2 linked regions of the Homo sapiens genome follow. The protein of the gene in region 2 purifies or fractionates together with the protein of the main gene of each other region. This does not show direct contact. Each region holds a gene or a part of one and is shown on either strand. Other genes may lie near its edges.

Evidence for each region.
Region 1: the proteins of ZNF200 (region 2) and GABPA purify together in Homo sapiens (affinity purification with mass spectrometry; one large-scale study listed by BioGRID and IntAct). This does not show direct contact.

What each region holds. Positions count from the first base shown.
Region 1 is NC_000021.9:25,755,472-25,758,971, reverse strand, and holds part of GABPA (GA-binding protein alpha chain), read right to left. Parts: intron 963-3,500; coding exon 768-962; intron 1-767.
Region 2 is NC_000016.10:3,228,659-3,232,158, forward strand, and holds part of ZNF200 (zinc finger protein 200), read right to left. Parts: intron 1-3,500. UniProt on the Homo sapiens protein: Localizes protein arginine N-methyltransferase PRMT3 to the nucleus.

The DNA of each region.
Region 1 (3,500 bases), on a different chromosome or scaffold from region 2:
CAACCTCCCAAGTAGGTAGGACTACAGACACGCACCACCTTGTCCGCCTATTTTTTGTATTTTTAGTGGAGATGGGGTTTCACCACGTTGGCCAGGCTGGTCTCGAACTTCTAACCTCAAGTGATCTGCCTGCCTCATCCAATTTCTTTACATGGTCACTTAATCATAATAATGTCTGAAGCCTTACAAGTTATAAGTGGAAAAACTTATAACCAATGGCTTCCAATGCCAAAAGGTGGCTGCATACACTTCCTTCCCTCTTAAGACTCTATTCAATTAATAGTAAAGACTTCAAAAAAGATTTAATCTCATCAATAATGAAGAGAATGGGTAGGAAGCCACCTGTAAACAAATGATCTCTTCCGTTTCTAGATGAGCAGTAAATGTAAGAGCTGATCAAACAGAAGGCAACAAATGGAATATATGAAGAGGGCTAAGTGTAGGGCACAGCATCTGATTTAAGAACTTGGATTCTAATGTTAGCCTGGGCTTGAATCCTGGCTCTGCCACTTCCTAGCTGTGACTTTATGGGGCTCTCAAAGCCTCACTTTCCTATCTAAAAAATAAGCAAAGTAATGACTTATGGTGTTACTATAGGAATTAAAGAACATATAGAGCTTTCAGCATAGCATTATACAGTAAATAAATGTTAATTATTATTGCTTATTACTTATCATTATCAATAAACAACTAAGATGAAAACAAAGTTACAAGGAAATAAAATTAAGCTTAAATTACAATGTAAAGAAATAACTGTAATTTCATACATTTTCGGAGAAGTTCCAGATGACTCCAGAGAATTTCTCCCCGAGGAACCCGCTGAAAAAAATCTTCTTGGTTGAGACTACATAATTCTCTCCCCGAAATGTTGAGTGTGGTGAGGTCTATATCGGTCATGCTGAATTCCTTCATTACCCAAACCACCCAATGCAGGACTTGGTCTGTGGACCACTGTATGGGATCTAGAAAGAAAAATATTCACTTTAGCCTAGTTCCATTTTAGATACTGTGTAAATTTACAGTTAACTTCTCAATACACACACATACACACAGATGTTTTCTTTCCCCAAGTATATGAGGTAAACTTACTATATGAAGCAAAAAAAAAAAAAAAAAAAAAAATTATGCTGTAATTTTTTCCTCAGCTCCTTTCCAATTTCTTAATCTAAATTTCTGATGCAGTCACTTGGTTCAACCTCAGCTGGAACTGTATCAAGAAAAACAAAATGCAAAACTGCTCTCCAGTGGGCCAAATGAAAGAATAAAATATGAGATTATTCTGGAGAGAATAAAGTAAATTATCCAAGTTTAAAAAAATTTGCAGTTGCATTGAAAAAAAATCAAAAGGGGATTCTAAGAAGCTAGCTTTATTCTCCAAACTATGAACCATATCCTTTTTCCTCCCTTTTCCTTCCTGTAAAAAGCTGGCTGCTCCTGCATTTACCCTTATGATGCATTTCCAATAAATAAATAAACATGGTAATTGCCTGTTTTACTCAGCTGTCCCCTCACAACACACTAAGAAATACAAGAAATGTGTCTTGTAAACCATTCTATCTTTAGAACCTAACAGTGCCTTGCTCATACACTTGTTTAATCTTAAAGAGTATATCCAAATAATTTTCCTTTTCCCTATCATTTACTACCTAATTGAATTCATAAATAAAAAAATATGGCCAATATCTATAAATATTACATTGCTGTATCACCCGCACCTAATAGAGCATTCTATCTGTGTAAGTTTAATACATATTAGCTAAATTAGTTTTGGTTCTGGTACTCCCACTTTAAGAAGATGATCTATTCAAATAATATTGGTTATATACCCAATAAATAAATGCTATTCAATAAGAAAAGTAGAAAAAAAATAACATTTAGGTATCGAGGGCAAATTATAGTGAAAATAAATCAAACATAAGAATTTTATAAAAGTTCTTCAAAGAGGCAAAGTGCTATTGAAACTGAAACTATTCCATTTGAGACTAAAGGAACAGAGGTGCCCTAGCCTCAAAAGGCAAAAGCAAGCATTCTAAGAATACAGGATTAATAGCCACAGAATATATATTTTAAAATTTTTCCATAAAGTTGTTAAGTGAGGATTCTAGGAAGATGGTGGCAAAGTTTTTTAATTTTTCTGAATTGTACACATAAACATAAAAAAGTGACTGGAGAACAAAACCAAAAACCCACGAACATTTACATAAAACCAGGTGACAAGATATCTTCATGGACCTCAAGATACAAGAGGGTAAAGACAAAGCAATAACAGCTATAAGACCTCCATGGTCTTAGCTTGTGTGCAGGAGAAAGCAAAGGGAAGCAAGGGAAGTGTGACCCACTCTGATCATAGGAAAACCTGAGCGCAGCCAAGAAGCATGCATTCAAAGTACAACAGGACAAGATGAAAGCAACGCTAAAAAGCAGTTTCGCCCAATCCAATAGCTGCAGTGTGTGTTAAGATTTAAAGGGCTGAAGCAATGTAGCACCTGGGTGTTTGTCAAACTGAGCCAAGAACCACTTTCAGGAGAATGGCCCACAGTAAGGAGAAACTGGCAGAGTGGAACTAGAAGTGAGCAGCAGAGGGACGCCAAGGAAAAGGAAAGAGGAGAAGGCCCAGGTAAAAGTCGACAAGAACTGAAAAAGAAAGTTGCCTTATCTGTGAGTACTATACTACTTGAAAACAACAGAAGCAGAGTTAAATAGAAAAGCTATCCTGAAACACACCTCTTTTAAAAGAAAAACAAAGTTAATTTCACATAAAAATTTAAAAATAAAAAAAACTCAGGGAAAAATATAATTTGTCTGATTTGTTTTCTCAAATATCAGGACTTCTGGTTTAACATAACTAATTGTCCACCCATGTTCTGCCTCCTTTCTCTAAGACTCTAGTAAAACAACAGTAAAGGAATTTTTAAAAGATGCAAAATCATAGGAACATGAGTACAAAGTGACAGGCATGGATGAAAGATTTAATCTAATGTTTTGAAGACAATAAGCAGAGTGGTAATCGATTTGGCATAGGAGGGGAAAACTATGACCTAAAATGTTTGCCAAGGAGGATGCCAGTAAGAAGTGAGAGAATTCCTGCCTGCAGAACCCCCTTCACTGGTTCAAGTCATGGTGGTTCTGAGTAGCAAGAGGCTTAAAGCTGAAAATAAGGAGACAGATTTAAAGTAGATGGTGTGGTTAGAACCTCCAGGGTCTCTCTTTCATTTGGGGGGCCAGTTAAATGAGTGCACCCCACACATGTGGACACCGGGAAAACATTTATTAATAGATGGGGAGAGACACGAACAGACACTGAGAGAACAATTCCCAGTAATAAAAGCCTATAAACTGAAGAGTGAGACCGTCTCCACCTTCTCTACCTCCTCCCTGCTCTACTTCCTTTTCCAGTTCCACAACACAGTATTCACATACACACCTACCCCAAATGCTCACCCCTATCTTCTACTGCTGACAGGTATCTGCAAAAAGATCTATAAATATTGACACGTTTG
Region 2 (3,500 bases):
TAACTTTTGTATATTTTTTTTTTAGTAGAGATGGGGTTTTGCTATGTTGGACAGGCTGGTCTCAAACTCCTGACCTCAGGTATCACCCGCCTTTGCCTCCCAAAGTGCTGGGATTACAGCCGTGAACCACTGTGCCCAGCATGGGGACTGGATTTCAACACGAGATTTGGAGGGGACAAATATCCAAACTATATCAGCAACCTTGCGTCAAAGGGGTAAAAACAAATTAAAATTGCATATTTTTTCTAGAAAACATTATACAGACCTTCATATTCATAGGTTCTGCATCTGAGGATTCAACCAACCAAGGATTGAAAATATTTGAGAGAAAAAAAAAGGATGGTTTTGTCTGTACATATTCAGTTTTTTTGTCATTCCCTAAACAATTTAGTATAACAACTATTTATGTAGCATTTACTTTGTATTAGGTATTATAATTGATCTAGAAATAAAATATATGGTAGGATATGTGTGGAGTATATGTAAATGCTACACCATTTTATATAATGAATTTGAGCATCCATGGATTTTGGTATCTGAGTGGGGGTCCTGGAACCAATCCCCCATGAATACCAAGGACAAGTGTATATCAGAATTTATGGTATAACCTAAAGTGATGCTCATAAGAGAGCTCATGGCTGTAAAAACATGTATTAATTTAGAAAAATGAGAATAATAAAGCCTCTGATTCAAAGTTAGAAAAACAATAGGATAAATTTAAAAGAATGAAGGTATTAATAAATACCAATTAGAAAGTAATGAGTTAAAAATAGAAAAAAACTAGTAAGATTTAAGCAAAAATAAACCAATTTCCATAGAGAAAATTGAAATTATCAAAAAAAGACTAGCCACCTACCCAAGAAAAGCACCAGCCTCAGACAGTTCCACAGAAAATTCTTCTAAACTTTTAAAAATTAAATAATTCAAATGCTAGGAAAATTTCCAGAGTATAGAAAAAGAAGGTTGGGAGGCCAAGGCGGGCAGATCACAAGGTCAGGAGATTGAGACCATCCTGGCTAACATGGTGAAACCCTGTCTCTACTAAAAATACAAAAAATCAGCCGGACAAGGTGGCAGGCACCTGTAGTCCCAGCTACTCGGGAGGCTGAGGCAGGAGAATGGCATGAACCGCAGGGGGCGGAGACTGCAGGAAGCCAAGATCGCACCACTGCACTCCAGCCTAGGTGACAGCGAGACTCCGTCTCAAAAAAAAAAAAGAAGGAAACTTCCAAATTCAAACAAGAGCGAAACTCTGTCTCAAAAAAATAAATAAATAAATAAAGACAGAGAAATCTGAGCCCCAGTGATGGAGGTGGGGCCTAGTCGGAGGTGTCTGCATCATGTGGGTAGATCGCTCATGAATGGCTTGATGCCACCTCAAAATAATAAGTGATTTCTCACTCTTAGTTCACTAACAATGTGGCTGTTTAAAAGAGCCTGGCACCTTCCTACTCTCTTTCTTCCTCTCTTGCCATGTGAAGTCTGCTCTCCTTCAACCATGAGTAGTTTCTTGAAGCCCTCACCAGAAGCAGACGCTGACGCCATGCTTCTTGTACAGCCTACAGAAAACTGTGAGCCAAATAAACCTCTTTTCTTTATAAATTACCCAGCCTCAGGTATTCTTTTATAGCAGCACAAAATGTACTAAGACAGTTGCTTAAGAGTTTTAAATTTTCCAGGTGGAAGGAACTTTAATTTACTGATCTTTATTATTAATTTCTAGTTGTACTGCATTGTGACAGATCCTACTTTATTTCTACTCCTTGGAATCTGAGTCTTTGTTTGTTGCCTAGTATTTAGTCAATTTTCTTCAATCTTGAAAAGGTGTATTCTCCTATCACAGCACACAGTAGCTATAATAAGAATTATCTTACTGAAAATCTGTTTAAGTGTTCTACGTTTTTCCTTATTTTTACGTGGTTCACTTGGCCAACACACACATTCTCTGTTTCCCTAGGTTATCAAGGACTGTTCTTTGATTCCTGCCACCACAATGTTCAATCCGTTATAGTTTTTCCTTTGCAAAAATTGGTTAAATGTTACTGTTTCAATTATCATCACCTATAAATTGATGGCTCCCCAATCCCTATATCCTCACATCTGAACTCCAATCCCCAATTTCCAAATATCTGGAGGATAATCTCATTTTATTTCCCATCATGGATTCAATCTCATCCAAAATCAATTCCACCTTCTTCACTACTCTGCCCCGGGTCCAAATCTTACCTCAGTCTTGCGATAGCTCATTATACCTATAAAAATTTCACACTGCTTATCGTTTGATGAATGACTTGTCTTACAAACCAAATTGGAAGATTACAAAAGGCAAGAATATAACATCTTCGTAACCTGATGAATACAATTCCAGAACCCAATCCTGCCTGAGGAAAAAACTAGTACATTTATGAAATGCTGGTAAATGACTAAGCTTAAGCCACCAGCTTCAGGGTACGGGTGGAGGAAGTGGGGAACAGAGGGTGAGGATTGGGTCTTAGGGGCCCTGAAGTGCATAGTCGAAGTGATCTTGGAGGCAATATATCCACTAACCAGTCACCCAAAATAAATGCCAGCTCTGCCCAAGACTCAGGAAAAACTCAGTGTTAATAAATCTGATCTTTTTATCCTTTTCTCTAAAATAAAGAAGATATCACATAGAGCAACCTGCGGGAAATTAACTACACTCATTACATACCAATACTTCTGACCATACGGTATAATTACAGCTAAGAGTTTGACAGTCATAATGGATTTCTGTCACCCCAGGCAACTTCTAAAACCTATTCTCTGTACAACTTCACCCTCAGAAACAAAAAGCCCTGAAGGCAAAGTAAAAAGTGTCCGGCACTCAGTAAAGACATTTGTGCGGGCCTCTGCCTCTAGGGTTGCAACATTTCTAGAGAAAAGGTAAAGCATCTCTAAGCAAATTATAGAGAGGCTGCTGCTTGATCAGTTCATACACAGCACTGGGGGACACTTGTCAACTATTACTGGGAAATGAGGACAAATAAAGAATGCCCCATTCACCAACCATACACGGAATTCATTGACAAAATTATGAGAAATGCATCTAGGAGACAGTACAGCCCTGGGCCATTACTGCAAATTCTGATGTCAGATTCCCTGAGTCCGAATCCCTGTTCCCCTACTTACAACTGTGTGAACTTTAGCAAATTTTGTAACCCCTCTCTGCCTCAGTTCTGTCACCTGTAAGGTGGCAGTAATTTCTATACCACTCAGTATTACTCTGAGAAGTACATGAGAGAATAAACACATGAAAAGCATTTGGACTAGTGCCTAGCATGTAACAGCATATAAGTGCTCATTAAGTGTTAAACATTACTTTCACCAATAGTGGAATATATTTTCACTTAGGCTAGTAGTCTTCACATCTATTGAACATCAAAAAGGGGAGGGGGATTACAAGAGTTAGTCATGTGTTCAATGAAAACATTCAAATATACCTGTTGAGAACAGAGTTCAGAAAATGGGTTCAGAACAGT